Linked DNA regions of Homo sapiens: region 1 is linked to region 2. The links come from fine-mapping of genetic effects on gene expression. A gene starts in region 2. The other region holds a variant in brackets. All regions are shown on one strand. Distances are between the middles of the regions.

Region 1 (15,896 bases), 52 kb after region 2:
CATGTTTCTTCTAATGTTTCAAAACTTATTTTTGTACCATTGAAATGGGAATAATTATCTTATAAGCTTTAAGAGGATTAAATGAATTAATATGTAAATAAGTCTCCCTAATACATCGTTGGGTCATATGCAACCATGATCTGCATAAAGTGTGAATCAAAAATGGAACAAGTTGTTATATTTAAGTGGATGTCGTGTGATCTATTTCATCGCATGTAAAAAGTTATGCTAACTTTAGTGTTAATAATATATAACACTTTGATTTCTTTTGAACACAGGACCCCCTGGAACAGCTGTCCCTCCACCTACTGGCTACCCAGGAGGCTTGCCTATGGGATACTACAGTCCACAGCAACCCAGTACCTTCCCTTTGTACCAGCCAGTTGGTGGTATCCATCCTGTCCGGTATCAGCCTGGCAAATATCCTATGCCAAATCAGTCTGTTCCAATAACATGGATGCCAGGGCCAACTCCTATGGCAAACTGCCCTCCTGGTCTGGAATACTTAGTTCAGGTACTCCATGAAAATACAAATTATTTTCTTATGAAATGTGACCATAGGGATCCAACAAAGAGAGAAAAAAAGCAGACCAGAGTGAATAAAGGAGATGGGTCAGTGATGACAGATGCCATTTGTGAAACTATAAGAACAGTGATACCAGTTTCAGAAATATGAAGGGGAAACAGCAAGTACAAGGATGTTTATAGTGGGATGAGTATGTTTTTCATAAGGATTTATGTTGAACTTCAAGGCATTCAAGATGTTTTCTTGAAAGAATTGTACAAATGGAAATAGAAAAACTATCATAGAGGATAGTTGTGTTATTTGCTTAGAAGTAAACAGTTAACATCAAAAAAAGCACAAAAGAGAACAAAACACAATACAGTGGGTAAATTACTGAGTGCCTTAGCCCATTGCTTTTTACCACCACCCATCATTTTCATTAGCTACTCTTGTCACCCCCAAAAACAAACAATATAAATAAAAATAATGGACCCTACAAAGAATATTGCTTCAGGCCAAGTTCCAGAGACCCCCTTCATACAACACAATAACTCCCTAATTAACATCTATGTAGATATTCTGCTGCCACCAGGACATGCAGATCAAAAACTGGGGTAATATGGGAAGTTTGTGCACAAATAGTTTTGTTTAAAAACCCATGTCTGAAACTAAAAAACCTGCTTAATGAAAATAAGATAAAGCTGGCAGAGTAGACGCCTTTTATTTGTGGCGTTGATTCCTGCGGTTTCAGTTACCAATGGTCAACCAGGTTCCAAAAATATTAAATGGAAAATTCTAGAAATAAACCATTCATAAATTTTAAATTTATTCTGAGTAGCATGATGAAATCTTGCACAGTCCTGCTGTGTTCTGCCTGGCACATATATCATTCCTTTGTCCAGTGTATCCACGCTGTAGATGTTATCCATAGTATACAGACCCAGAGTCACATCTTGGTTATCAGATTGACTTACAGTATCACAGTGCTTGCATTGAAGTAACTTATTTTACTTAATTATGTCTCCAAAGCACAAGAGTAGTAATGCTGGGAATTTGGATATGTCAAGGAAAGACCAAAGAGAGGCCATAAGGTCTTCCTTTCCATGTAAAGGTGAAGGTTTTTTACTTAATAATAAAAAAATTCCTATGCTAAGGTTACTAAGATCTATAGTAAAATTAATATGTCCATGAAATTGTAAAGAAGAAAAGAAAAATTTGTGCATAGTATATACAGGATTTGGTACAATCTGTGGTTTCAGGTATCCACTGAGGGCTTGGAAAGTATCCCCTGAGGATAAGAGGGAGACTACTTTATTGGAGATTCCATAGAACCTTCTGAATCTTTTTTGTTGTTGTTTATAGAAAAAGGAAGTGCTGAAATACATTATAAAGAAGAAACTTCCCAATTTAATACTTACCTCCCCAGGTCAACAGCCAAGTATTTCCTCGAGTTCTGTCATTTCTCTTTTCAATTCTGTATATTGACAGGGACCCTGATAATCTTGTGTGCTGAAAACTATTTGTATAATATTATAACATTGGTGTATAGAAGTCAATACAGTTGGATCAGGAAAATTTGGATTTTACAAAAGCCAAAATTTATCCTAAATTATTATTTGGACAAAATTTTGACAAAATGCAAAACTCATTCAGGTGAAGTGCTAGAGTAAACATCTACATTATTTCAGAAGATAATAAAATGTTTGTAGCTTATCAAGTTTAGAAAGTCTCATTTCTATACTTGGTGATAAATACAGAAGTTGTTCTTGGGAATCTAACATCTTCTACAGTCAATTCTCTTTTCAAATTGTATAGCTTTGTTTATTTAAATATTAAAAACTTGTTTCTTAATTTCTTTTATGATTCTGACAGAGGTTAATTTAACGTATTTTATGAGTTTTCCCTTTTAGGAATATTTAGAGTTAAAGAAATAAGTGAAAAAATAAACAAAACACAGGTTTGGACCCAGGCAAACCTGGTTTTTTAATTCTGTCCTACTCTCTAGTAACTCAAAAACTTTGATAAAATTTCTAACCTCTTGCTGCTTGAATTTTATCATCTATAAAATAGTATTATCAATACCTACCTTACCAGATTGTTAGGAGAATTTTTAATGAGATAAGGGTCACAATGTGCCTAATATTTTTGACATAAAGGGCCGTCCCAATGGATGAAAGCTATGTGGCTGTTATTAGCTTAAATACCTTCTTATGTGTGAATGCAAGACATAGAGCCAATCTTTTTCCTCTATCTACCCTAGTCTTTTTGAGATCTCACATGAAGATTACATGAATCTTTATCAAGGTTCCCAAGAATCCTAAAACATCCAAATTAGCACGATTATATTATTTTCAGAGTCTTGGCTTTACCAGTGACTTTACCAATTTGTCAAAGAACTACCCCTTAACAGACACATATTATTGAGTTCCAGGAAGGGACACAATAATATTGAAATTAGGCCAGTTAATAATCCTGTGATGGCCTCTGAGTGTTCAAGTGAAAGAAACAATTGCACATCTCTCACTGTAAATAAGAAAGCTGGAAATGATTTAGCTTAATGAGGAAGGCATGTTGAAAGTTGAGATAGGCCAAAAGCTAGTCTTCTAGCACCAGTTAGCCAAGCTGTGAATGCAAAGGAAAAGTTCTTGAAGGAAATTGAAAGTGATATTACTCCAATGAACATATGAATGGTGAAAAGTAAAAGAGCCTAATTGCTGATATGGAGAAAGTTTTAGTGGTCTAGAAAGAAGATCAAACCAGTCACAACATTTCCTTAAGCCAAAGCATAATTCAGAGCAAAGCCCTATCTCTCCTAAATTCTATGTAGGCTGAGAAAGGTGAGGAAGCTACAGAAAAAAAAAGTTTGAAGCTGGCAGAGGTTGGCTCACAAGGCTTAAGGGGGGAAAAAAGGCACTTTTGTAACATAGAAGTGCAAGGTGAAGCAGCAAGTCCTGATGTAGAAGCTGCAGTAAGTTTTTCAGAAGATCCTAACTATAACAAGATCATTGATGAAGGTGACTCTGCTAAACAACAGATTTTGAATATAGATGCAACAGCCTTCTGTTGGAAGAAGATGCCTTCTAGGACTTTCATAGCTAAAAAGTAGAAGTCAACGCCTGACGTGAAAACTTCAAAGGACAGACTGACTTCCCTGTTAGGGTCTCTTGCAAAACATTACTACTCACTGACAACACATCTGGTCACCCAAGAGCTCTGATGGAGACGTATAAGGAGATTAATGTTGTTTTAATGCCTGCTAACACAACATCCATTCTGCAGCCCATGGGTCAAAGTATAATTTCAATTTACAAGTCTTATTGTTAAAAAAATGAATTTCGTTAGGCTATAGTTGCCATAGATGGTGTCATTTCTCAGACAGATCTGGGCAAAATAAATTGAAAACCATGTGGAAAGGATTCACCATTCTAGATGCCAATAAGGACATTCATGATTCATGGGAAGAGGTCAAAATATCAGCATTAACAGGTGTTTGGGAGAAGCTGATTGCCACTTTTATGATGATTTTGAAGGGTTCAAGATTTCAGTGGAGGAAGTAATTTCAGATATGATGGAAACAGCAAGAGAACTAGAATTTGAAGTGGAACCTGCAGATGTGACTGAATTACTGTAACTCATGATACAACTTTAACAGATGAGCACTTGCTTCTTATGTATAAGCAAAGAAAGTGCTTCCTTGAGATGAAATTTACTCCTGGTGAGAATTCTGTGAACATTGTTGAAATGACAAAGGTTTTAGAATACTACACAAATATAATTGATAAAGCAGTGGCAGTTTTTAGGTGGATTGACTCCAATTTTGAAGGAAGTTCTACTGTGGTAAAGTACTAAAAAGAACATCATGTGCTACAAGGAAATCTTTCATGCAGAGAAGAGTCAGTCAATTGATATGGCAAACTTCATTATCTTTTGTTAAGAAATTGCTGCCGCCAACCTGGGCTTCAGCAATCACCACCCTGACCATTTAGCAATCATTAACATAGAGACAAGACCCTCTACCAGCAAGAGGATTGTGACTAGCTGAAGTCTCAGATGATTGTTAGCAGTTTTTAGCAATAAAGTTTTTTAAAATTAAGATATATACTTCTTTTAGATTAATACTCTTACACACACTGTAGACTACATTATAGTGTAAACATAATTTTAGATTCAATAAGAAAATAAAACATTCATGTCACTCACTTTCTTACAATAATTGCTTTATTGCCTTGGTCTGGAACCAAACTTGTAGTATCTTCAGAGTATGCCTGTAGTTTATATTTTTACTTTTCACTTCTAGATTTTAATACCCTACTTTTCTAAAATGGACTATAAACCATTTTAGTAGTCACTTTTGGTATTTTATGAGGCATATTTATGTCTCCTTATGTCATTGTGTTTTTATGTAAGAAAAAGGTTTTAATTAAGCATAGATTGTGCCCTTTGTACCCTCCTGTAATTAATCACACCATAAAACATTCGTGTTTAGGTACATTATTTTAATTTCATGTATTACTGCATTCATATATTCTTCATTAATTAATGTACTTAACCAATGTTTGGTGAAATATGGCACTTCAGGCAGTGTTCTGGGCTCAGGGATTAGGAATGGTCTAATGGTCTAAATGATGTAAAATTATACAAATATAATCAGTGTGTCCTCAAGAAGGTTTCTTTTCTTCTGCTAGAATGTTCTCACATGTAACAGATAATGTGCCCATCAAACTGCTCATCTTTAGAATGATTCCTAAGATAGAAATTTCTCTAATGGTATATACCCAGCCGTCCTTTTCATGGGTTGCCATCTAACAATGTTTCCTTTCTCTTCCCCTAATCCTGTTCACATGCTTCCTAGTGTAATAGACCCTTCCCTTATTAAAGTGTGCACTTGGGGAAGACCCTGGCCTTTGTAGATCAAGTGAATGCAAGTCAGTTTATAAACCTCTGCTGGAGGTACCTGTAAAATAATATAAAATGGGGACACTCCATGTGAGGTTCACCCTGGCTTGTTTGTTCTCCTTAAGCCACTGAGAGACTTCCCTTTTCTATGGCTGGTCCGTGTTAATCGTTCTGAACTTAACTAAACAACTACAGGCTATGGATGACATGTAGAGAGACCAGTGAGTAGGGACTTATCTAGGAACAATCTATAAGCACAGCTTCTTCTGATGTGATTACTACAGCAAGTAGATGTTTTGTTTTTCTGATATAGCAGACAACTTTTTTAAAGTGGTACTGAAAGAAAGTGTTTTTCTAATATGGACAACTCTGCTAATATCCATCCGATCAGATGCAGATAAGCTAATTTCAGTTGGTAAAATTTTTTTGATTCTATTGACTTTCAAAAATATATTTTGGTATCAATTGATGCATTTTAATATCTATTTCATCAGTTTATTTTACAGTGGTATTTTAGTTCTGTTATTTCTGTCTTCTGATTGCTTTGTTTTATCCCAACAGTTGGACAACATACATGTTCTTCAGCATTTTGAGCCTCTGGAAAGTATGTATAATTTTTGTAGTGCTCAGCAGTATTTTAATCAGATGGAAATTTGCATTATCCAATATCTAGTTCCTTCTTTATATTGATCATGTTTTAGTGGCTCAAAGAAAAAAAAACTGCTCTATTACCCTATCTTCAAGAAAGTAATAAAGTGAATTATTTTGTATAATTTTATCCTTCTATACATCATATAATCATAAGCTCTTAGATTTGAAAAGGGCTTACATTTTATCTGGTCAATAGCCCTACACTTTACCCATTGTTCCTACTCCACATTTACCTTTCAAAGATGAGTAAAAAAAGGAGCCAAGAGACTAAATGAGTTAGCCAGGGACACCACAGTCAGCTAATCACCTCCAGATCAGGAAATAGCATTTAAACCACAGTCAGCTAATCAGTGGCAGAGCTGGAAATAGAATCCAAATCTGCCAAATCGTAGTGCAGTGCCCTCGCTTTGGAAGTAAGAAGAAAAGATCTCAGTCAAAATGATGCCTGTTCTCAGTTCATCCTACAAGAGTACTGACCCTCACTAAACCAGCTGTGCACATTCATTTGGCCACCACATAGGGCCTTTGACTTTTCTTGGTTTGTTCTCTTGTTTGTAATTAGTAATGACCCTACTCCTCCAAGCATGTTTCGTGAACTGATTAATTAATGGTCAAATGTATAATTTTTTTAAATGGTTTTATAATTAAAGTTTTCTGAATTCAGATACTCCAGGAATTGAAACAAAAGGGTTGTTTCAATCTTTTCTTTTATGTAAAATTTTTTTAATGTTTACACTGAACTTCTTAAAAGAAATGTTTTAAATTTTCACAATTGCTTAAATACTTTTAGATAATATGATTTTTGGGGTACTCTAATCAATTCTACATATTTCACCTGAAACTTTAAAAAAGCTATGTTGCTTTAAGCCCTTAAGAAATACTAAACAAGGACTTTCTGAGGCCCATTTTAAATGTTTCTAATATAGACTTACTCATTTTATTTTTTAGTGATGACATGTTTTGAAACTAATAATAGATATGATATTAAAAACAACTCAGACCAGATGGTTTAC[A/G]TTGTAACCGAAGACACAGATGACTTTACCAGGAATGCCTATCGGACACTAAGGCCCTTCGTCCTCCGGGTCACTGATTGTATGGGCCGAGAAATCATGACAATGCAGAGACCCTTCAGATGCACCTGCTGTTGCTTCTGTTGCCCCTCTGCCAGACAAGAGGTCAGAGAATGGAAGTCTGATCCACAGCTTGCTTCTGATCTAACTCTTCATGGCATAGTGTGCTCCTTCCACTACATAGGGAGGATATTCCCTGGCCCTGCCAGCCAGAATGGAAGAAGATAGTGGGGAGGGAGGAAACCAAATTGTCTCGCCTAAGGAAAATCATAGAGGATTTTTTCTTTTTGGTTACTACTTTTTAGTGCTTAAATAAGTGGGTCAAGCACAATTGACATATGTGTAGTCAATAATTATGATTCCATCAGTTGCATCTACTTAATTAGAAATTTACCTACCACATTTATCTAAATGTACGTACCTATCACTAGATAAAGCAATGCTAAAGATAAACATATGCTTTTAGAATTGGAAGGGACTTAAATATGTTTAGAGTACCCATCACAACGCATACCTTGCCACAGATAAAGAGTGGCTCAAAATTACTAAATGGCTGAGGTGTTACATTTGGCTAAGGACAGGGCTGGAACTAGAATACAGATGTGCTGAGTTACAGTGTGGTTACTCATTATCTTGCATTTCTAAGCAAGTTATTTTCTGTAGGGAAAAGAGAAGCGGTTTTGGAGAGAAACCAAACAGAGTCTGAATTCTAGATATGTCACCTACTTAAATCTGTAAAATTTAATTAACCTGTTTGAGCCTTAGTGTTCTTATACATAAACTGGGTAGTATAATACATCATAGGATTACTGAAATACTTAAATGATCTGTTAAATAACATCCTTTACTAAATATTAATTTTTTACAACCGTCTCCAGGCCTTATTTACCTGTAAAATGGAAATATTAATAGTACCTATCGGATAGGATGATCATTTTAGGGATTAAGTCAATTCTTCTGCACAGTTCCTAGCAAATAGTATAGTACTCAATGAATATTTTCTCTTTTCAGAAATCTTACTCCTTTGTTATTATTGTCTTTGTGATAACAGCCTTATATGTGAAGTGAATACCTATTATCCTTGATCCTTTTGGATATAGTAGGCATTTATCTTCATATTTATGAGTTAGATTTTTTTTTAATCAAAGCCTATAGATACAGCCTTCTGAAATTATAGGAAGCCAGAATAAAGGAAAGCAAATCAAAATTACAGCTGGGCAGGATGGTTTACACCTGTAATTCCAACACTTTGAGAGGCTGAGGTGGGAGGATCACTTGAGGCCAGGAGTTTGAGATCAGCCTGGGCAACATGGTAAAACCCCATCTCTACAAAAATAAAAAATAAAAAAATTAGCCAGGCCTGGTGATGTGTGTCTGTGGTCCCAGCTACTTGGGTGACTAAGGTAGGAGGATCACTTGAGCCCAGGATATCGAGGCTGCAGTGACCTGTGATTACACCACTTCACTCCAGCCTGGGTGACAGAGAAAGACCCTTACTCCTAAAAAAAATTACAAGCCTAGTCCAATTTATGACACTTTTGTCTCATAACTTTACCTAGGTTTTTCTTCAGATTTCTCCAGTTTTACTTGTATTAATTTGTGTGTGTGTGTATACATTTAGTTTGTGCAGTTTTATCATTTGTGTAGATTCCTGTTTCCATCAGCACAATACAAATCCCAAACAGTTCCATCATCACCAAAGTCCTCTTTTATTACCATATCCACATTCCTCCCTCCTCTTTGTCCCTAGCCCTTCAGAACCACTAATCTGTTCTCTATGTTTATAATCTTGTCATTTCGAGAGTGTTATTTTAGCAGAATCATATAGTATGTAACTTTTCAGGATTGGTCTTTTTCATCCACAGTAATTAACTGGAGATTCGTACAAGCTGTTACCACTAGTTCATTCCCTTTTATGGCTGAGTAGTATACCATGGTATGAATTTTTAAGGAATTTATTTTTGTACATTTTTATTTTTATCTCATAGGTTTAAACTTATATGAGAGCTCTATGATACTCTCAAATTTATATATTTGTATATAGGTGTGAATTTATACATATGAACAATAATACCTTAATTTAATAATTTATGAAGCTGTGCAGTCCTGTTCCATGTCCTGGGTAATCCTTTCCCCAAATTCTTATGAAAGTACATGTAACACCAGAGAAATAGTCAATAAAATTTTCACTTTGGGCTTTTACCAAATAATTTAATCTTTATGACTCATTATTATTAAACAGGAAGATCTTAATTATTCACAAAATAATATTGTTGAAGATAAATAGCTAAAAACAGGGTAGTGGACAATATTTTAAAACTTTTAAAAAATGGCTTTATAAACCCATGTACACATTTTGTTGTTTTCACAATATATAATTTTCAAAATGCCTCTTTTTTGTTTTCTGTTATAATTTTCATGTCTGAGATTTGATTTTACCCAATTTCAAATCTAAAAAGTCAGCTTAACTGTTTAATAGACTGAGTCAGAAGAAATGAGACTCCTAGGAAGGAGACAGAGGACCGTTTTACAGCACAGCAAGCAGCATAAGTGTGTAGGTTCCCCTCATCTCCAAGTTCTGAGGTTGACTTGGAGAAGCCCATTGCTTCCTCATTGTAAGCCTTTTATTTTTTACTTATCCTGAGAAAATTGTTCTTTCTGATGGAGAAGCAGTGTAGTGTAGTATCAACAGTAAGCCTTGAAACCAAGCCAACTTATCTCTGTGCCACTTCCTAGTTCCATGTTTTAGAAAGTGTTTAACACTTGCAAGCCTCAGTTTCCTCATCTGTAAAATGGAGATTAAAATACTTATATTTTTCAGAGTTATAAATATCAGCTGTTTATGCAGCTTGCCAACACTGAACTTGGACAACTGGCCATTATGTAACAAGCCCTAATTAAGCCTGCTGTCTATCCCAGAGGCAAACATGACCTCATCCGTTAAAGCTTTTCACTGAAATCCAACCTGAAGAATGGCCTGGGTGAGATGGAAGGCTGTCACTCCCAACAATAATTTCCCTAGTCTTTGAATGAGTGAGGACACATCTAGATTGTGTATGTGCGTATGTGTAAGTGTATGTGTATGCATGTAGCATCCTAACTTCTGTCACTGTTTTGTTTGCAGCTGGAGGTGCAGTGTCCTCCTGGTGTCACCATTGGCTTTGTTGCGGAACATTGGAACCTGTGCAGGGCGGTGTACAGCATCCAAAATGAGAAGAAAGAAAATGTGATGAGAGTTCGTGGGCCATGCTCAACCTATGGCTGTGGTTCAGATTCTGTTTTTGAGGTGAAACTATGTAAAAATAGTGTTTCTGATATTTTTCCTACTCATATTAACAGACCATGGAAAGATCTGGTTGTAGACATTTTTTTTTAATGTGAATGAATAACATAGTGTTAGGAAAGAGTTAATTAACCAGTTGACATCAAAAGATTTTAAAGTTATTGTGAGTAGATTGAGGTTTTCCAAAATGAAAGCTTTTTTTATGACTTCAGTACTTGATAAAAATAAAAAGAAATCATTTAATACATTAAATATTCTGAGAGTAAATAGCTTGACCTAATTCATCTATTCTATTGTTGGCTATATGTAATTAACCATTTTTTTCCCTAGATTTCTAGGCTGGGAATATAGGCTCTAAGTAATGCAAGTGCCCAACATGTCACAGAACATACCAAGTACTCCTTAGGCTGTGGAAATACTTATTTGCAGGATACAAGTCTGTCAGCATCCTCAAGAAATCGGATAACACTAACAATATGGATAAAACTTATAATAGTTTTAACATTTTTTTCAATAAAAAGAAAAATTATTTTGTTTTGCCTTTATCTCACTGGCTACAAAATGCTGGTTCATTACCCTACGAGTCTGACACAGGAAATTCCTAGAAATATTTCCTAGGCTTCTTAAAGAATATTTTTTGAATGCCTTGCAATTAGGCAAGATTCATCATCTTCAAAACTGCTTGCTCATATGTTTCCTATGATACTCAAGAAACTTTCCTTAGTTCTTATTTTCTATTACTGTATCGTTAAGCATTGCTTATTTATTAAAAGAGCAATGTAGATAAGCCAGATTGCTAGGGCAGGGTGTGTGTGATCATTCCCATTGCCAAGTGACATTAGAAGTTAGTATTTGGATATTTTCCCTGTGACAAGTGCCAGGTTTCCCCTTTTAGAAACTGAAGCTCGTTGGTATCTGGCCGTATATTAAGAAGACAAGGTGAATTTCACTCACAAAAACTTAAGTGATGTGAAGTGAACAGTACTTGTTTCCCGGTTTTTGCTCATAGGTTTCCCTAGTTTGGAAGTGACTCTCTCCCAATTCCCACCCTTTACTATGTTGAGAAGAATTTCATAATCAGTTCAAATCATACCTCTTCTTAAAAGGTCCCTTAATAACTCATTTGAAGATGAAGAAAGAGCAGCAGTCTGAGACTTTTAAGAATACCCTAGCTCAGTTATTAACCAGTTGCAAGGCAGTTAACCCTTTTTGGCCATTATTTTCTCATTTCAAATTATATAATTACATAGTCTTTTTCTGCATTGTATTTATGTTATCTGAACATAAGCAGAACATTAAAACATGCTTCAATGCGTTTCAATCATCATAAAGGCACATTCTTGTCATTCCAGGTCAAATCCCTTGATGGCATATCCAACATCGGCAGTATTATCCGGAAGTGGAATGGTTTGTTATCAGCAATGGCAGATGCTGACCATTTTGACATTCACTTCCCACTAGACCTGGATGTGAAGATGAAAGCCATGATTTTTGGAGCTTGCTTCCTCATTGTAAGCCTTCTATTTTTGAGTTATCCTGAGAGAGTTGTTCTTTCTGATGGAGAAGCAGTATAGTGTAGTATAAAGAATAAGCCTTGAAACCAATCCAACTTATCTCTGTGCCACTTACTAGTTACATGGTTTAGAAAGTGTTTACACTTGAAAGCCTCAGTTTCCTCATCTGTAAAATGGAGATTAAAATACTTATAATTTTCAGGGTTATGAATGTTAGCTATCATGGTAAAATGACCAGGGGAGTACTTAGATAACATTAGGTATCCATTGGGTATAATTATCATCATTGCATGTTATTTGTCATTGTCACTACTTAAAAATGCCTAGCCTATGATTTCTTAGTGAAATAACTCTAAAGTGGATGTCCCATTCCTCCTTCCTTTCTGCCTGTCACTGTACTCTTTGGGGTTGTCCAATCCTGAGATTATGAAGTTTTTCCTCTTTTTAATGATGAGATTCAGTTAATTGGCACTTCAAATGGAAAACTAACAGTTCCAAATTTGTAACTGCTGCTCTTCACAGTAGGTGCTCTTCATAAATATTTCCCTAAATTTATGTATTTTAACTGGAATGGGGGAATCCCCTAATAAATTACAAAGGATAATACCGCATGCATTATACCTAATTATCTATATATCTACATATAATTCTTTTTCCAATTTCAGGACTTCATGTATTTTGAAAGATCTCCACCACAACGTTCAAGATAGAGAGACACAGCAAGCCATCAACTATGGTTAATTTTGAAAAATGGAAAAGTTGGATTGGGCTTACAGTCAGCACTCAGTTATTTGCAAGTGTATTTCTTTGCTTTGTAGAGTATTTTTATTGGGTGTTAACTTTGACAGCTGAGAGTGGGCTTGCAAGAACACAATCTAAAAGTGTGTTTCAATTGAGTATCTCTCTAGTAGAATAGGAGTTCATCCTGAAAAGCTGTGACTCATTAACCCAGTAAACATATACAAAGTAAGCTTAAAACACTATAAACATGAGATAAGGGAAAATGAATCCAGAGTTCTCATATTAATAGGTAGTGAAACAATAAGGCTTTTTAGAGCAGACTTTGTTGGCATAAAATAACCTGGCTTCTATCCCTAACCCTTTCCTACCTTTCCTCTCCGTCAACATGTCCTCATACTGAAGACAAACTTGTTTCAATGATAGTCTTCATTTTTAAAAACAAAAAGGCAGGCAGACAGAAATAATGATGTTTTCTTGCACTAAGAAGGTACTACTTGTACACATATATCAAAACCTCATTCTGCAAAGTTTTTGAAGGTTTCAATGGGAAATTTGATTTTATTACAAAATAAAACATTTTTTAATGTTAAAGTTTATATATTCCATGCTTGTTTTCTCATTCACTGGCATGGATGATCAGGAGCTGCCTATATATGAAGGCAGAATCAGACTATCAGGAAAGGAGCTGGCCAGGGCCACAGCCAGTCAAGATCTCTGAGCAACTTAGAGACATTGGTGTCATTATATGAAGCTTGCATTTAATACATTTATACATAATACATTTGTACATTTAATTCATAACGTCTCTTGGTCACAGATGCCTTATATATAAAATAAGTTGCCAGATCTCTAAGATTGCCTAGTACACCTTTGTATCTCATTTGATGTGATACCCAGAAGAGATCATTGTTTTTTGTTTTTGTTTTTGTTTTTTTCAAGAAGATCCTTCGTGATCACCATGCTGTTCTCATGGTAAGAACTGGAGTTATGTTTTTAAATTTGGAAATATGACATTTTATGTAGCACTTTATAAAAAGTGAAAGCGACAAATTCCACCGCTGCTTAATACTGCTTTGCTTCTTTTTATTGACATGATAGATAAATATGTATCTACACAGAGTAATAATAATAAAACACAGTAAACATTCTATTTCTCTATGGTCTACAGCATGCCAGTAAATAATATGTAGGACCAATAATAAATTATCAATTACACATTTTTGTGTTAACTAATTAAAAGCATAGTGTATAAGTGAGTACACTCTAATTAACTTGCTTCTGTTGCACTTTAGTTTTCTACCTGCATATGGACTGCATTTTTTTTTTTTAACACAGTCAGTATGTAGAATGGGATGTATTCTTCTGCTGCTGCTTATTAAATAAAGAAAGCCTGAGTGTTCTTAGATGGGGTTATTCTGAGATGAGGGTCTTAGCCTACAGTTCTTTTTGAAATGAAAGGTGCTTTGTTTTTTAATTATATTCATCTTTTCAGGGTAAATTTGTTTTTCTGAGTTTCTCGTAATGCTCATTTTTACATGCTGCTACTAGCTTTTTTTTTTAAAAAAAGTAAAAGTTGCTGCTTTCTAAAATATTAATTGCCTTATATTTGAAAGTGCCATTGCAATCGTAAGTAGACTATGTATTTCCTATAATGATGTCTGATATTTAAATAGGAAATCAGACAAACAATATTCAGAAAGTTTAAGCATATAAACTTTTTATTTTTAACTTGCCTAAATCCCTGTATTCCAAAACCTGCTGCATCATAATAAATATATCTATATATATTTAGCATAAGACGTGATATTTTTAATTTCTTTTTTAAAAAATTATATTTGTCTCTTAGAGTTAAAATTTTCTTTATATAATATTGTCATATGTCATAGTTTTAATACAATTCACATGATTTCTATGTTTCTTAATGATATTTTGTTGTGTAAAATTGATCGGATTGATTAAAAAACAAATTCTCTGGAATTTGTGCGTTCATGCTTTTTCGTATTCTTTATGGCTTTTAAATAAATATACAATGGTTAATAGTAAAACACTGTTTTATTTTTTGACTTTGAATCTTCAAATACTTTTTTCACAGGGATTTTGAAGTAATTTTTATTGATTATTAGGTTTATTCAAGGCCCTTGCTTTCTAATATAAATTTTAAATTATTTTTAATTTATATATTTAATATATATTTAATTTATATATTTTTAATTATATATATTTATATATAATATATATAATTTATATATAATATATATTATATATATTTTTATAATATATAAAAATATAATTTATATATTTTTAATTTAATAAATTTTAAATTATTAAAGTCAGCCGGGCACGGTGGCTCACACCTGTAATCCCAGCACTTTGGGAGGCCGAGGCGGGCGGATCACGAGGTCAGGAGATCGAGACCACGGTGAAACCCCGTCTCTACTAAAAAAAATACAAAAAAAAATTAGCCGGGCGCGGTGGCGGGCGCCTGTAGTTCCAGCTACTCGGGAGGCTGAGGCAGGAGAATGGCGTGAACGCAGGAGGCGGAGCTTGCAGTGAGCCGAGATCGCGCCACTGCACTCCAGCCTGGGCGACAGAGCAAGACTCCGTCTCAAAAAAAAAAAAAAAAAAAAAAAAAAAAAAAAAATATATATATATATATATATATATATATATATATAAAAAGTCATTTCTGTAGTGTTGCTTAGTGGTAACTAGCTTTCTTATATGACCAAGTTATTTGTAAATGCTTATTTCTAATCCTCCTAAGATACATTTAAATTTCAAGTATAATTTCAATGTCAGTATATCATGAAGGAAAATTGCTAGAATTTGTAACCATCAGTGAAGAATGCATTTTAAACATTTTTTCTAAATGACCATTTTTTCCAGAAATTATACAAAAATCAGGTTACAAGACTTATTTTTTCTGACCAACTAGATATTAAATCAAATTCAGGTATAGAATAATCAGAGTGATTCTAGAGTATGGTATATTGATCCTGTTGGAGCAGCTGGCTGCTTTTCAGTCTTTTTTTCCCCCAGTGTTCAAGGTCGGATTTAATTTATATTGAAAGAAGCAAGCTTGGAAAACCCATAAGAAGTCTGGATTTAATAAACTAATATCAAACTCATCTGTTTGGCTAGTGATAGCTAATGTTAAAAATGGATCTTTTTCCATAACTTCACAGAATGCATTTCCCATTTTCCTCTAGGCCTCTTAAATTGTAAATCTCAAAAAA
Region 2 (15,896 bases):
CTATCTAATGCTGCACACAAATAGAAATGTTTCCCATTTTTCAAATATTTTTCTCACACTGATTGGTCAGAGGGCAAATTTATTTATCATCTTGGCCTATGTGAAAAGGTATAAAAATTGTGAAACCAATGAAGCACTTTAAATCAAAAAATCATGAGGGTAGTATTGAAAACAGTGGACAATTTGCTTTATATTGTTTACTGGTAAAACCACCAAGCCATTACTTCAGGTGCTAGAAAGAGCCTTTCTCTCACTATACTCCTCTACCTCCACCCACAACATCAGCCGTGGGCTCATTTCTTAACACGTTTGCCTACTTTTTTATTAAAATTATTTGGTTTCCATATCTCTTATCCTTTGCATATAGAACTTATTGGACTAAAGAATTGAGCTCAGGAAATAAAAGCTCATCTATCAGATATTAACAATGATAATATTCTTTCTAGTACACAATGAAAAGACTGACTCTAAGGTAATAATGTTAGGGTTTAATGAACCACAAATATAGTATTACTTATAATACTAGGAGTAAATAATATGCCAATAAAACTAATGCAATTAGGCCTCATTAATAGAGACCTATTGATATATTATTGTATTATCTAAACATCAGATCAAATATTAGAAGGCAATGAATAAACCTAAGGAAGGTAGTCTTAATGTAAGGGATCTGCAATAATGACAAATAGAGACAGCAAAAGGAAATAAGGCTGTTTGGTCTTAGGAAGAAAATACTTAAGGAAAAGTTAATAGCTATTTACAACAATTTACAGCGTTATTATATTAAATAAGTAAGAAAAATATTCTCTTTTGGGATAAAGGATACATGTACATTTAGTTTAATAAAAAAAATTTCTAACAGTTTGGCATGTCTGAAAATAAATTGCTTTCAAAAGTTATGAATTTGTGAGAGTTGGAGCTCCAATGATGATAAGTTAGCTTGGATTGCAATAATCTTTCCCTAGATAACAATAATAAACTCTGGGAAAATATAAAATAAAAACTATTTGAAGGCACTGGAGAACAATCAAAAGCTGACAGAAATTGTAAGGCATCTGACTGGTAATATTGTCTGGATATCTGTCCTCTCCAAATCTCATGTTGAAATGCGATTCCCAATGTTGAAAGTAGGGCTTAGTCGGTGATGATTGGATCATGAGGGTGGGTCGAGGGTAGGTCCCACCTCCTCATGAACGGTTTAGCACCATCTCCTTGATAAGTGTGTACTTACTCAGTTATTTCACATGAGATCTGGTTGTTTAAAAGAGTACGGGACTTCCCCCTTCTCTCTCTTGTTCCCTCATTCACCATGTGATGTGTCTGCCCCCGCTTTGCCTTTTGCCATGAGAAAAGGCTCTGGAGGCCTCACCAGCAGCCAAGAAGATGCAGGCACCATGTTTCCTGTACAGCCTGCAGAACTATGAGCCAATTAAATCTCTTTTCTTTATAATTCAGCCAGCTTCAGATATGTCTTTGGAGCAACACAAAAACATCATGTTGATACAGACTATTGGTCCCAGGAGTGCAGTATTGCTATAAAGATACCTGAAAATGTGGAAATGGCTTTGGAACTAGGTAATGGGCAGAGGCTGGAAGAGTTTAGAGGGTTCAGAACAAGACAGAAAGATGAGGGGAAGTTTGGAACTTCTTAAATGGTGAAATGGCTGTGATCAAAATGCTGATTAAAATATGGACAGTGAAGTCCAGACTGAGGAGGTCTCAGATGGAAATAAGGAATTTATTGGGAACAGGAGTGAAGGTAGCCCCCGTTACGCCCTCGCAAAGAACTTAGCTGCAGTGTGTCCATGACTTAGGGTTCTGTGGAAGTTTGAACTCAAGAGTAATGACCTAGGAGGCTATCTGGTGGAAGAAATTTCTAAGCAGCAAAGCATTCAAGATGTGGTCTGGCTGTTTCTAACAGTTTACCATCAGGTACTGGAGCAAAGAAGTGATTTAAAGTTGGAACTTAAATATAAAAGGGAAGCAAAGTTTAAACATTTGGAAAATTCAGAACCTGGCCATGTGGCTAAAAAGGGAAACGCATTTTCAAGAGAGAAATATATGCAGGTTGCAGAGCAGCAACTTGTTAGAGAGATTAGCATGACTAAAAGGGAACCAAGTGCTAATATCCAAGACAATGAGGAAAAGATCTAGCAGGCATTTGAGAAATCTCTATGGTAGACCCTCCCATCAAAGGTTCAGAGGCCCAGGCAGAAAAAATTGTTTAGTGGAGCAGGCTCATGGCCCTGCTGCCCTGTGCAACCTCTGGACATTGTTCCCCAAATCCTGGCCTCTCCAGCTGCTAGAGTTCAAAGAGCCTCTGGCATAGCTTGAGCCATTGCTTTGGAGGGGATAAGCCATAAGTCTTGGCAGCATCCATGTGGTGTTAAGTATGCAGGCCCATGGTATGCAAGTTTGAAGAAGACTTGGCAGCTTTCCACTCGATTTCAGAGGATGTATAAGAAAGCTTGGCTGCCCGGGCAGGAGCCTGCTACAGGGGCAGAGTCCTCACAGAGAATCTCTACTAGGACAGCACAGAGGGGAAATGTGGGGTTGGAGCCCCAACACAGAGGCCCCACGAGGGCACTACCTAATGGAGCTGTGGGAAATGTGGGGTTGGAGCCCCAACACAGAGTCCCCACGAGGGCACTACCTAATGGAGCTGTGGGGAGGGGGCTGCCAGCCTTCAGACCCCAGAATGGTAGAGCCACTGACAGCTTGCAACCTCATCCTGGAACCAAAACAGGCAACCAACTCCAACCTATGAGAGTAGCCATGGGGGCTACATCCTGGAATGCCACAGGGGTGGAGCTGCCCAAGGTGTTGGGAGCCCACTACTTGCATCAGTGTGCCCTGGATGTGGGACATGGAGTCAAAGGAGATTTTGGAGCTTTGAGATTCAATGACTGCTCTGTTGGGATGCAGACTTGTGTGGGGCCTATTGCCCCTTTCGTTTGGCCAATTTCTCCCTTTTGGAATGGGAATGTTTACCCAATGCCTGTACCACCACAGTATCTTGTAGGTAAATAACTTGATTTTAATCTCACTGTCATAGGTGGAAAAAAAAAACAACTCCATATGAAACTTTGGACTTGTGACTTGGAATTTGGGACTTTTGAGTAATACTGGAAAAAGTTATAACTTTGGGGAACTATTGTGAAGGCAATATTGTATTTTAAAATTTGAAAAGGACATAAGTTTTGAGGGGCAAGGAGTAGAATGATATGGTTTGGATATTTGTCCCCTCAAAATCTCCTGCTGAAATGTGATTCCCAATATTAGAGGTGGGGCCTGGTGGGAGGTGATTACATGATGAGGATGGGTCCCTGATGAATGGTTTAGACCAGCCCCTTACTGATAACTGACTTTTTGCTCAATTAATTCATGTGAGAACTTAAAGACTTTAAAAGAGTCTGGGACCTTTCCCTTTTCCCATGTGACATGCCTACTCCTCCTTTGCCTTCTTCCATGAGTAAGAACTCCCTGAGTCCTCCCCAGAAGCAGACCAGATTTAGGTGCTTCCTGTATAAGCTGCAGAACTGCGAGCCAACTAAATCACTATTCTTTTAAATTACCCAGCCTCAGGTATTTTTTTGTGGTGATGCAAAAATGTCTTAATTCAACTAGTGAAGAAGGGAATTACAATGACTGAGTGAGACCCACGCTTATAGACACTTTCCCTGTGGGTACTCCCAGTTCTCAGATGTAACGTAGCTAGAACTCAAGTAGGATGCATCAGAATTACTGAGTTGTGATATCGGTGTAGAGATTTCAGGCTACCAGGGTGCTTATAAATGAAGAGTAATCCCAGAAAGTAGGGAGACACAGAGACAATAATATTAATACCTGCCAATTAAAAGTCCTCAAATCCTTGACTGACCGTGGAACTGTGTGTCTATTGGGGACGCTCCAATGATGCCAGCAGAAAGGAGAAGGCAGCAGCTGAAAGGACTGGACAGAGATTTCAATTGCTGTATACAGCAAATGAAATACTGTTTGGAATCTGAGTAACACAAAGGATAGAGGAGCCTAGTAAAATCTTCAGGTATTCAATAGTCATGCCTTAAAGTATAAACCAATGGCTCCGGATGTTAAAGGTGATCAGCCCTCAAATGCCTGCCAGAGAATGCTTTCTCCTTAGAGGAAGAAGACATAACTCAGATATATTATTTGCAATGCCCTGTGCATAATAAAAAAGTAATATCCATTGTAAGAAAAAGAAAATCATGACTCATCATCCAAAAAAAAAAAAAAAAAAAAAACCAGCCCATAGAAATACATGACAAGGTGAAATACATGTTGATATAAAGTAGTAAAACAGTATGTTAGGGTGTTCTTGCATTGCTATAAAGGAATACTTGAGACTGAGTAATTTATAAAGAAAAGAGGTTTAATTGGTTCTGCAGGCTGTACAGGAAGCACTTGAGACTGGGTAATTTATAAAGAAAAGAGGTTTAATTGGCTCTGCAGGCTGTACAGGTTTAAATGGTTCTGCAGGCTGCACAGGAAGCACAGTGATACCATCTGCCTCTAGTGAGGCATCAAGAAGCTTACAATCACGGCAGAAAGCAAACGGGGAGCAGGTGTATTAATGGCAAGAGCTGGAGTGAGACAGAGAGGGGAGAGGACACACTCTTTTAAATAACCAGATCTCACAGGAACTACCAGAGCAAGAACACACTCATCACTAAGGCAATGGCACTAAGCCATTCACAGGAGATTCTCCCTTATAATCCAAACACCTCCCAACAGGCCACCTTTAACACTGGGGATTACATTTCAACATGAAATTTGGGAGGGACACAGATCCAAACCTTATCAAACAGTTATTATAAGTTAAAAAGTTAAGAAAATGATGGTCTTAGTGAATGAACAGATGTGAAATCTCATCAAAAGACATGGAAGCTGCACAAATGAACCAAATAGAAATACTAGCACTGAAAAGTGTTAATACTGTAATGGACTTAACAGTAGATTGAAATAAGGGTCAGCATATTTTTGAGACGGATCCATAGAAATTATTTAACTTAAAGAGAAAAAAATCAAAAAAATGTAAATAAAGTCTTGGTGAGCTGTGAGTCAGTATCATATGGTCCAACATACAATTAATTGAACTGAATTTCCAGAAGGAGAAGAGAGAGAAATGGGTATGGTGCAGTAAAGAAATAATGACTGCAAGTTTTTCAAATTTTGTGAATAATATCTACTTATGTATCTGTGAAACTCAGAAAACCACAGTAGAATACAGAAAGAAGCATACATCATAGACTAACTGCAGAAAAACCAATGATAAAAAGTTATTCTTAAAACCAACAATATGCATTCTGTCAGATAAAAATGGAGGTCAAAATTGTTGGGGAATAAAATAAAAAAAATCTGTACACCCAGAATTCTATAACCAGTAAAAATATCATTACAAAATTCATACAAAATAAAAACATTTTTAGATTTAAAAATCTAAAAAGATTTTGTCTGTAGCTGTTCTGCACTACAAGAAATACTAAAGGGACTAGGTATAGTGGCTCACACCTGTATCCCAGCACTTTGGTAGGTCAAGGCAGGCAGACTGCTTGAATCCAGGAGTTTTAGACCAGTCCATGTAACAAAGCCAAATCTTGTCTCCCCCCTCCAAAAAAAAAAAAAAAAATTAGCTGGGCATGGTGGCATGTGCCTGTAATCTCAGCTACTTGGGACGCTGAGGTGGAAGAATCACCTGAGCCCAGGAGGTCGAGGCCGCAGTGGGCTGAGGTTGTGCCACTGTACTCCAGCCTAGGCAACCAGAGTGAGACACTGTCTCAAAAATAACAAGAACTACTATAGGAAAGTCTCTAGCCTGAAGGTAAGTGATAATAGGTGAAATTAAGATCTATAAGAAAAAAAACGAGGAGCACAGGAAATTGTGTATATGTGGAAATATAGAAAAGCTATTTTCTTCTTTTAATTTCTGTAAAAGACAATGCACTAGTTAAGCAAAACTTAAAACATTTTGTTGTGTAAAGTCTATAATTAATGGGTATGTAAAATCTGATAGCATTTGCACATACAATTGAGGAACTGTAAAGTAATTATAAATTTCTTAACTTTATGTGAAGTGGTACATTATTAACTCTAAGTAGACTGTGGTAACCTAAGAACAACCAGTGAAAAGGAAATAACACGAAGAAATACACTTGGAGCAACAGAGCAACTAAAATGGGATTAGTATAAAAAGTAGTTAATTTGTCATCCCTCGAAATGTCCAGGTTGGAAAGTCATCAGATCAGGAAATTTCAGAAAAACAGGAAATTGAGTTCTTCTTCTTCCCCTCGAAAGTTGTGATTTGGGGTATATGACATACTTGATTTTATTTTAATCCCTCAAAGCAATATGTTTCACAAGACATGTTTTGCTCTTGAAATTTTTGGTATCTTCACGTGGCCACTGTGGATGTTTACATTCATAAGCTCAATTACTTGGCCTCTTTCATAAATTTTAAACAAAGGTAACATGCCGAGACCAGCTCAGTCGGGGAGACCCTAACCCAGCGGCGCTAGAGGAATTAAAGACACACACACAGAAATATAGAGGTGTCAAGTGGGAAATCAGGGGTGTCATAGCCTTCAGAGCTGACACCCCCGAACAGAGATTTACCCACGTATTAACAGCAAACCAGTCATTAGCATTGTTTCTATAGATGTTAAATTAACTAAAAGTATCCCTTAAGGGAAACGAAGGGATGGGCCGGATTAACTGCAGCAGGAACACGCCCTTAAGACACAGACCGCTCATGCTCATTGTTTGTGGCTTAACAATGCCTTTAAGCGGTTTTCGCCCTGAGCGGGCCAGGTGTTCCTCACCCTCACTCCCGTAAACCCACAACCTTCCAGCTTGGGCATTAGGGCCATTATGAACATGTTACAGTGCTGCAGAGATTTTGTTTATGGCCAGTCTTGGGGCCAGTTTATGGCCAGATTTTGGGGGGCTTGCTCCCAACAGTAACATATGCTATTATAATTTAGTTTCACCACCAGTTTCTTTGTTTTATGCTTTCAGTAAAACACTATGTCTGCATCTGAGAAATGTTCTGTGCAATTATTACTGAGAAGAACAGTATGAATTTTTTAATCTATTCTCACATGAATATTAACAAATAACACACATACAAAGAAAAATATAAAATTCTAGAACTCCACTCCCACATCCCTTCCCCTTTCCAACCTTCTCCCACAATGGGGTTCTGCCAAGTACTCCTCAGAGCTTAATCAAGCTTACTTCTGTCCAGTTCTGATTCTTTATAAGGTCAGAGGACCTTCAGTTCTCCCACTTCCTGTCAGTGTATTGTGCTTCTCTCCAAGCACCACCACAGAACTGAATCCCATTGGTCTGAAAGAAATATTTGTGCCTAACAGTAATAAGCAAATGGCATTTTTCTCCCAATGTCAGAAAACATGGGCAACCTGCTCCCTTTCCCCTTTATTGGCGTCTCTCCCGCCTTCCCTCCAAGATCAAATTGGCCTCCCCCAATTCTGTGGAAAAGAAAACAGAATTTCTGGGCCCTATGCCCAAGTGTTTCCAGCCAGCACGGCATTGCCAAGGCTAAATCACCAAGCCAAGGACCTGGGGGTGGGCGCAAATGCAAATCAAAAAGGCTCTTGAGGCCGGGTGCAGTGGCTCACGCCTGTAATCCCAGCACTTTTGGAGGCCGAGGCGGGCGGATCACGAGGTCAGGAGATCGAAACCATCCTGGCTAACACGGTGAAACCCCGTCTCTAGTAAAAAATACAAAAAATTAGCCGGGCGTGGTGGCGGGCGCCTGTAGTCCCAGCTGCTAGGGAGGCTGAGGCAGGAGAATGGCCTGAACCTGGGAGGCGGAGCTTGCAGTGAGCCGAGATCGCGCCACTGCACTCCAGCCTGGGCGACAGAGTGAGACTCCGTATCAAAAATAAAAATAAAAAAATAAAAAAGGCTCTTGAGAAAGAGGGGTTTCTTCATTTTCTCTCTAGGCGCAGTAATCTATGAACAAAGCTCCCTTTCCCAGGCCCTGCAACCTGCCCCTCTGATTGGAAGTGACCGTGGGCTGGCTTTTATCTTTTCTTTCACCTCTTATTAGAGTAGTGACAACTTATTTTCTTCATTTCTTCCTCCCCCTCGGCTTTTAGGTTTCAGCGGACTTCAGGGTGCCCCACCTCTTCCAGGAAGACGCTCCCCCGGGCTGGCGGCTCTCCCAGCGCGGGGCGGGGTCCGAGACGGGGAAGCCGCGCGCGGGGAAGGAGGGTCCAGGCGTGCCGGACCCGCCCCCAGAACCCGCGCCTAGCCCTCCCTTCCGCGCGCTTACTTTGTTTATAACTTGAAAAATCCTCTCCGTCTCCCTTCCCTGCCTCCTTTCCTTTCCCTTTCCTCTGCCAGTACAACTAGACCCGGCGTCTGGCGTCCCCGGTGCCCAGCATTCTGCGGGGCAGGCGGTGAGTGGGGCTGGACAGGCGGGCGCAGAGCAGGACAGGGTGGCGCGGGCGCCCGGGCTGCGGGGCCGAGGGCGTCGTCAGGGGAGGCCCGAGGCCGCGGTGCCTGCGGGCAGGCGCGGAGGTTGCGCGGCGTCCTGCGCTAGCAGTTCCCGGACACTGCGCTCGCGTCGCATCCTCAGGTGGTTGCAGAAGTTCCGTGGTGTCGGGCGCGCGTCTGCACTGCAGACGCAGAGGGTTTGGGAGCGAGCAGTTTCCTGCCCAGGGATGGGGGTCCTGGCTGCACTTCACGGGGGCGGCCCTTTCGTTTCGCTCTGCGTGACAGGTCTCGCTTGATTGGGTTTCTCATGGGTCTCTGGCGTTTCTACGGCGCGGCTCTCACGGACTCAGGCCAGGCCACTCGCAGGTAAAAACGCTATTTATAGTAACTTTTTAATTGCTCAGCGAGTGGAGGCGGTGACAGGAGAGAATCCCTCTCTCTTATTTCCAATTCTGGCAAACTGGGGCGATTTGGGGCTGTGCTTGATTTGTTTTTAAAAACGTTCATATTTAAAGACTTAGGATTTTATTTTGTGGCCTTATCTTCTCTTAGGATCTACAATTTAGTTTTTAATTTTATACTGCATTTAGAATGGAGCCACCAAAATAAGTACTTGTGAAGATATAATGCACCAAACTTGATACTGCTTAAAGGGGAATAGATTGCCTAATTTAAATTGCATTCTCCTGTAATAGTAATAGAACACAACCTCCATCTGTCTATCTGCTCTCATGGATAGCTGTGAAATACTAGCAGCATTTCCATTAAATTTGAAAAAGACAAGAATGCTAATCATTACACTCTGTGACATGGTTGTGAATTCTATGGGCGAGTGACAACAGGTAGGGGAACATATTATCACTTTATGCATGATGTGAGTGTATACCTTAATGTCCATAGGAAACACTGAAATTTGATGGGAAGCATAAGTGAATTTATCAAAGTTTCCAATTGCATCATACTTAATTTATAGAAGTCAGTTGATGTTTATACATAAACTAGATAATACAGTAAAATAAAGTAAAATTCAGTTTGGCATGAAATAACACACAATTGAGAAATTATTTTTAAGAAGATATAAAAAGGTATGTATGAGAATCCAATAAAATACATAACATTCTTCTAGGTAAAGATATCATTTCTCTAAAACAACGTATAAGTAGAATCCTAACTGAATATTTTTGTTACTGTTTTTAACTGTACTGTTTAGCTCATGTGGAAGAACAAACATATTAACGTTATGTATAATATATTACAAATAATAAAATACAAAATATATAATTATGTCTTATTTTATATATTATATATGATTTTAACATTTAATATTATACATACACACATATATATAGTGGAGACTTCTTCATATAATAAAAGGTGTTACAAAACTGTGGTGATTAAAAGACAGTGCAGTAGACCTACTACCAGATGTGTAAATGAAACTGAAGAGACATGGAAGAATAAAAGGAAAGCTGGCATTTGATAAGCATACATTTTAAATCACTGGGTGGGAAGAAGAAATAACATTTAATTGAATGTACTTGGACAAGCAGGAATTTGTTTGGGAAACCTAATAATAAAACTGGAACTTTTCCTCACTGTTAATAGACAAATGTAGTCTAGATGGCTTACTAGTTTAAATCTAAACATATGCAGCCTAAAAAGGGAAAAAGAAAGCCTGAATAGATATTTGTGCACATTGCATGTGGGAAAAGCATTTCTAAGCATAATACAAAAACCTAGACCCATTTAGGGACATGATTTTTATTAACATTTGCATCCCCCAAAAAAGATACAAACTGCGGACATTGTTAATAGAAAAAAAAAGATAATTTTGCTAATATACCTAGAAATCTTATTAATGACCTTCAAAATCAATGACCCAGTTAAGGATAAAAAGAGTCAACTCAAAGCAAAAGAAATGCAAATAATAAGCAGAGTGAATACTGTTAGCCACACTAATTATCCAAAACATATATGAAGTAAGACATCAATTTTTGCATTAATTTTACAAATTTTGAAAGTCTGATAACTTTAGGTGTTGTTGAAAATGCAGTGAGGAAAATATAATTTTACAAACTTTTAGTGGAAATGTGAATTGGTGAAGCTGTTTTAGGGTTAAAGCTGTTCAGATTTACAAATGTTCATTTACTTAACTGGAATTTATCCAGCAAAACATGCTCCCAAGTGTACAAATAAAAATCTCTGTCAAAGATGTTTAAAGTAGGATTGTTTACAATGTAGAAAACATGGATACAGCTCTGTAGCCATTGATTGGGAATTGGTTACATAATGTATGGTATATTCAAAGGTGGAATAATATACAGTTTAAAACATTGTAGCTCTAAATGTTCTAACTTGGAAATATGTCCAAAACATAAAGTTAAAACACAAAATGAAACAACAAGTTGAAACACTGTGTGTGTGTGTGTGTGTCTGTGTGTGTGTAGTGTAGTAATTATATTTTTGTAAATAATTTGGAATATAGGCTGAATTATATTGTGAGTAGTGATGTTTTACACACAGCCGAATTATATTATTATGAGTAGTGATGTTGTTTTACACATTTCTATAATGTATGCGTGTGTATAAGGAAAAATTGATAGTGATAGTAATTTATACAGAACATTGCCTTCTTGAATATATTAGCTGTCATTTACTACAGAAGAAATATATTTCACAAAACCTTTCATATTGTCTCATTTTTTTTCTTTTATAAGTGTCCTCTTTCAGCTGCTTCCTTTAAAATCCCCTTCCTTAATATTGATGTTTATGATGTTTATTGCAAGAACAGCAGTGAAGAATTTTGCTTGAGGGATTTCACAACCAGTTAACTTTTATAAACAAAAAATACAGCAATGTTCATACTCATATGTTCACCAGCATTGTGCTAAAATTCATTTTTATAGTACTCATTCTTCAGGATGAAAGAGATAGATATGCTAGTCCTTAAAAAGAAAAACATCTAAAGTTGGAAAAAAATTGTTTTTAATTGCATGGTAAGGCTGGGTGGCGGTAGCTCACGCCCGTTATCACAGTACTTTGAGAGGCAGGGGTGGGCAGATTGTTTTAGCCCAGGAGTTTGAGAGCAGCCTGGGAAACATGGCGATACCCCACCTCTAAAAAAATTTAAAAATTAGCCAGGCATGGTGGCACCCACCTGTAGTGCCAGCTGCTCAGGAGGCTGAGGTAGGACAATTGATTGAGCCTGGGAGGTCAAGGCTGCAGTGAGCCATTATCATGCCACTGCACTCCAGCATGGGCAACAGAAAGAGACCCTGCCTCAAAAATAAAACTGCATGACAAAAATGCAGTGAAGACAAATGATAAGTTTTGAAAAGATAATTTTAATATAAAATTTTAATACCTTTCATATAAAGAAGACAAATGAAAAGCTAACAAAAATGAACAAATGACAAACAGGCAGTTCACAGAAATAGAGTTGCAAATTGCTTTCAAACAAATAATAAAAGTGGCTCAGCCTCCTCATTATGAGATATATGGAAAATAAAACCAATTTTTTTTTTTTATATATCAGATTGACTACTACAAAAATGTTGATAAAATACTGTATTAGGAATGTAACTTTTTGTCTGGGGTCTAAATTGATTCAAATTCTTTAGAGTGCAGTTTGATAGTATCTTTAAAAATGTACAAAACTTTGATCCATCAGTTCTGCTTCCAATAATTTAATGCACAGATCCACAGGAAGAAAATATTTTTTTCAGCATTTTTGGTAATAGCCTAAATTTGGAAACGATTTAACTTGTTGTCATTAGGCAGCCAGTTAAATACATTATGTTGCAGCCATTAAAAAGAATGAGGTTATATGGACTGAAATGTAATTAACATCAAGACATTTTAATAAATGAAAAGAAAAAGACACAGAAAAGTATATAGATGATTGCCATTTTATAAAAACTGTGTGTATTAGTTTATATATGCTTAGAAAATCTATTGGAGGAAAAAAAATCTAATGTCTGTGGTTGCCTTTTCAAATGGGAAATGGGAATTGGAGTAGGTGGGATTTTTTTGTATAAATGTATTGTGTAAATGTATGCACTGCCGACTCCTTGAATTATATTTGTGTTTGTTTGCACATAACATCTGTTTTTTAAAAGTCTGTTTTCATAAATGTAAAGTTTCTTATCAAAGTGACTTAACTGTATGCAACATGACATCTTGTTTTACTACAATTTTAAATACTAAAAGACTAGCTGTAAAATGACACAATGAGGCGTTCTTGGTAATCATAGTTGGCATGGTAATGTTTCCTTAATGTCTTATATAAACATCATGAGAATATTGTTCTGATATTTTTCTACTCTAAATAACAAAAACATTTCCCTTTTGAAAGCTAAAAAGGAGACACCTGATATTCTCTTTAAACAATTTGAACTAAATTAATATATTTAATAAAGGTTATGTATGGACTGTGGCTATCAATTTGCTTTCATTTAATCTTATCTTTTATTTTATATTAAAGCCAAATAGCTAACCTCCAAGATCCTTCACACTTGCTAAAAAGAATGAAATATTCTACCATACACTTTTTCTTTTGAAGGAGTCATGATGTTAATAAAATAATAAATATATTGATATAGGTTATAAAAACAACACAATAAAAATCTTAGGTTTTGCCCTTGTAATTTGTTGAACATTAATCACTCCCTAAGTTTCTTCTAGAATTGATTTTATGCAAAGATACAATTAAATACATATATGTTAACATGTAATTATAATGAAGATACTGTGTATCTATGGGACATTCCTGCTGCAGCATATTTTATCAACATGGACCTAGGTTTATCTTTTGTGCAAGCCTGGAATTCGTTTCTCTAATTTCAGCCCATGTGACAGAAACTTACTAAGTTTACAAGATGTCTACAGAAATGACTGAATCCTTCAGTCATTGGACTTTAATCCACTCATATTGAGCCCACTGAACTATCCAGTTCCCTATAGCCAAGAAACCCATAAAAGTAATTAACACAGTCCACCATAGGAGCCAAGAAATTTGGCTTAAAGTCTATAAAGAGGATTGTACTTGGAAAGGTGTGCATAATATTTCCTCTTTGATGAACATGCAGGTCTTTTTAGTTACAGATTCACTACAAGAGAGTACATTGTCAGGTTTTAAAAATTATTTTAAAAACTCAGTTTATATAATTTATTATACATTTATTGTAGAAAATTTAAAGAGGAAATGTTTATATCTTAGCATGTTTCCTCCAGTTTCCATATTTTTTAAAAACATTGCTATCATTATAATTATCCAGATTATATGTTTAACATTTGAATGTAAACATTTAATGATTTTTACAAAACTGTTACTATATTTTTAAAGGAAAATTATTTTATCATAATGTTTCATGATAATGTGTTTACTTAACAATTGTGCTTGATATTTATGTAGTTTACAATCACTACTATTTTCGTTTTGCATTCCTTCTGTGAAAATGAGAATGTATCACTTAAAAATATTATATGGCATATTTTGGATTTATTTTGAATTTGGTATAGAGGAAATTTACTTGGGTTTACAAATGAGATTTGAGAAAAAATAGATATGTCTTATATTGGTAAACTGAACATTTGATTGAATGTATTATGATTCCTACAGCAGATAGGTTTTTATCTGAATGGGGTAAAATTTCATAGATCTGTAACTGAGGGGGTGTGTGTTGGGGCCAGGAGGGGATATATTAAAATCATCTGGGAAATGGCTTCCATTTTCTTTCCTTATCCATAGAAGCAATGATCCTTTTAAGCTTTATCATGAGACTGCAACAATTCGGTAACATCTTCATGCTTCACTTCTAACTCTTAGTTCTCTTGCTATTCTCTCACATCTGCAGGTACTTCATCCAATGAAGTCTTGAACCACGCAAAATCATCCAGGAGGGTTGGAATCAACTTCTTCCAAGCTCCTGTTAATATTTATATTTTGACTTCCTCCCATGAATAACAAAAGTTCTTAGTGGTATCTAAAATGGTGAATCCTTTTTAGAAAGTTTTCAATTTACGTTGCCTAGATTCATCAGAGGAATCTAGGCCTAGCTTTTGGCCTGTCTTTGCTTTCAGCATGCCTTCCTCATTAAGCTTAATCTTTTCCAGCTTTTTGACTTAAAGTGAGAGATGCACGAACCTTCTTTTCACTTGAATATTTAGAGGCATTTGTAGGCTTATTAATTGGCCTAATTTCAATATTGTTTTGTCTCAGGGAATAGGGAGGTCCTAGAATAAGGGGAGAGATGGGAGAATAGTTGCTCTGTGGAGCAGTCACAACAACACTTACTAAGTTCACCATCTTATATAGGCATGGTTCATGGGGTCCCAAAACAATTATAATAGTAACATCAAAGATCACTGATCATAGATCACCATAACAGATTGTTATGAAAAAGTCTGAAATATTGTGAGAATTACCAAAATTTGACAAAGAGACAAACTGAGAAGTTGCTGTTCTGCAAAATGGCACTGATAGACTCCTTGATACAAGGATGCCACAAACCCTCAATTTGTTTAAAAAAATGGAGTATCTGTGAATCACAGTATAGCAAAGCACAGTAAAACAAGGCATGCATGTACATAATGAGGTATCTTGAGAATGGGACCCAAGTAAACATGAAATTCATGTTCCATTATGTTTTAAACATATAGCCTGAAGATAATTTTATACAATATTTTTGATAATGTTGTGTATGAAACGTTTACGTACGTTGAACCATCAGAAAGCAAAGGTATCAGTATCTCAATCACCCATGTGGACAATCTGTGGTTATTTGACGTCACCATCATTCCTGACTCTAAATTCATTATGCTACTGATAAGTAATCATTTTCTTACATTACTCACAAATAAGTGCTTAACAGTAAAAAATAGGATGTATCATTAGTACAGTGAAAAGAGAATGCGTTCAGGGTAACTAAGCAGCACAGTAGTATCTCCAGAATGCCTGTGTCGGAAAGCCACCAATAAGCAATGGCAGGCTTTCATTCTTTACCTACAATGCTGTATTTTGATTACAAGGTTATCATTCACTGAATTTTATTATTTTAAGTGAGAAGAAATATCAGAAGTAGCCAAGTGACCAGCAAGTGTTTTCTCTACAAATGAGGAAGCATTCTGATGGATGACTTTTCAGAATGTTTCCTCTGGAGTCCGCTGTCTCATTAACAATGGTTTTTGTCTTAGAAGTCTCTGTTGATTTTACAGACTGACACAATTTCTTATTCTGTGATGAATGAATGCTCTTAGAGTCCTTCAGTAAACCCATCACATATTTTCACCATGTCATCTATAGGCACTTTGCAGTTTTAACAGTGTCCTCATCATCTTTCACTTGTGACATCATGTTGGTGCTGAAAGTTTTGGATTTTTGAGCATTTCAGATTTTGGACTTTTGGATTAGGGTTGCT

The links. PIP is the estimated chance that this variant, and not a neighbour inherited with it, causes the effect.
Region 1: its variant is fine-mapped to the expression of PLSCR4 in lung (TOPMed, PIP 0.97).

Annotation. Positions count from the first base shown.
Region 1 is chr3:146,191,144-146,207,039 of GRCh38, reverse strand. PLSCR4 (phospholipid scramblase 4) reads left to right here. Exons shown (of 9, transcript NM_020353.3): 4 at 279-514; 5 at 5,963-6,005; 6 at 7,001-7,227; 7 at 10,247-10,408; 8 at 11,758-11,916; 9 at 12,585-14,705. The coding sequence ends at 12,629. Among named protein-coding and RNA genes, the nearest start is that of PLOD2, 38 kb to the right of the region's middle. The variant A/G (reference allele first, on the strand shown) is at 7,066.
Region 2 is chr3:146,243,505-146,259,400 of GRCh38, reverse strand. It overlaps PLSCR4 (phospholipid scramblase 4), which reads left to right and starts at 8,296. Exons shown (of 9, transcript NM_020353.3): 1 at 8,296-8,441. RefSeq lists enhancers at 1,203-2,191, 2,192-3,181.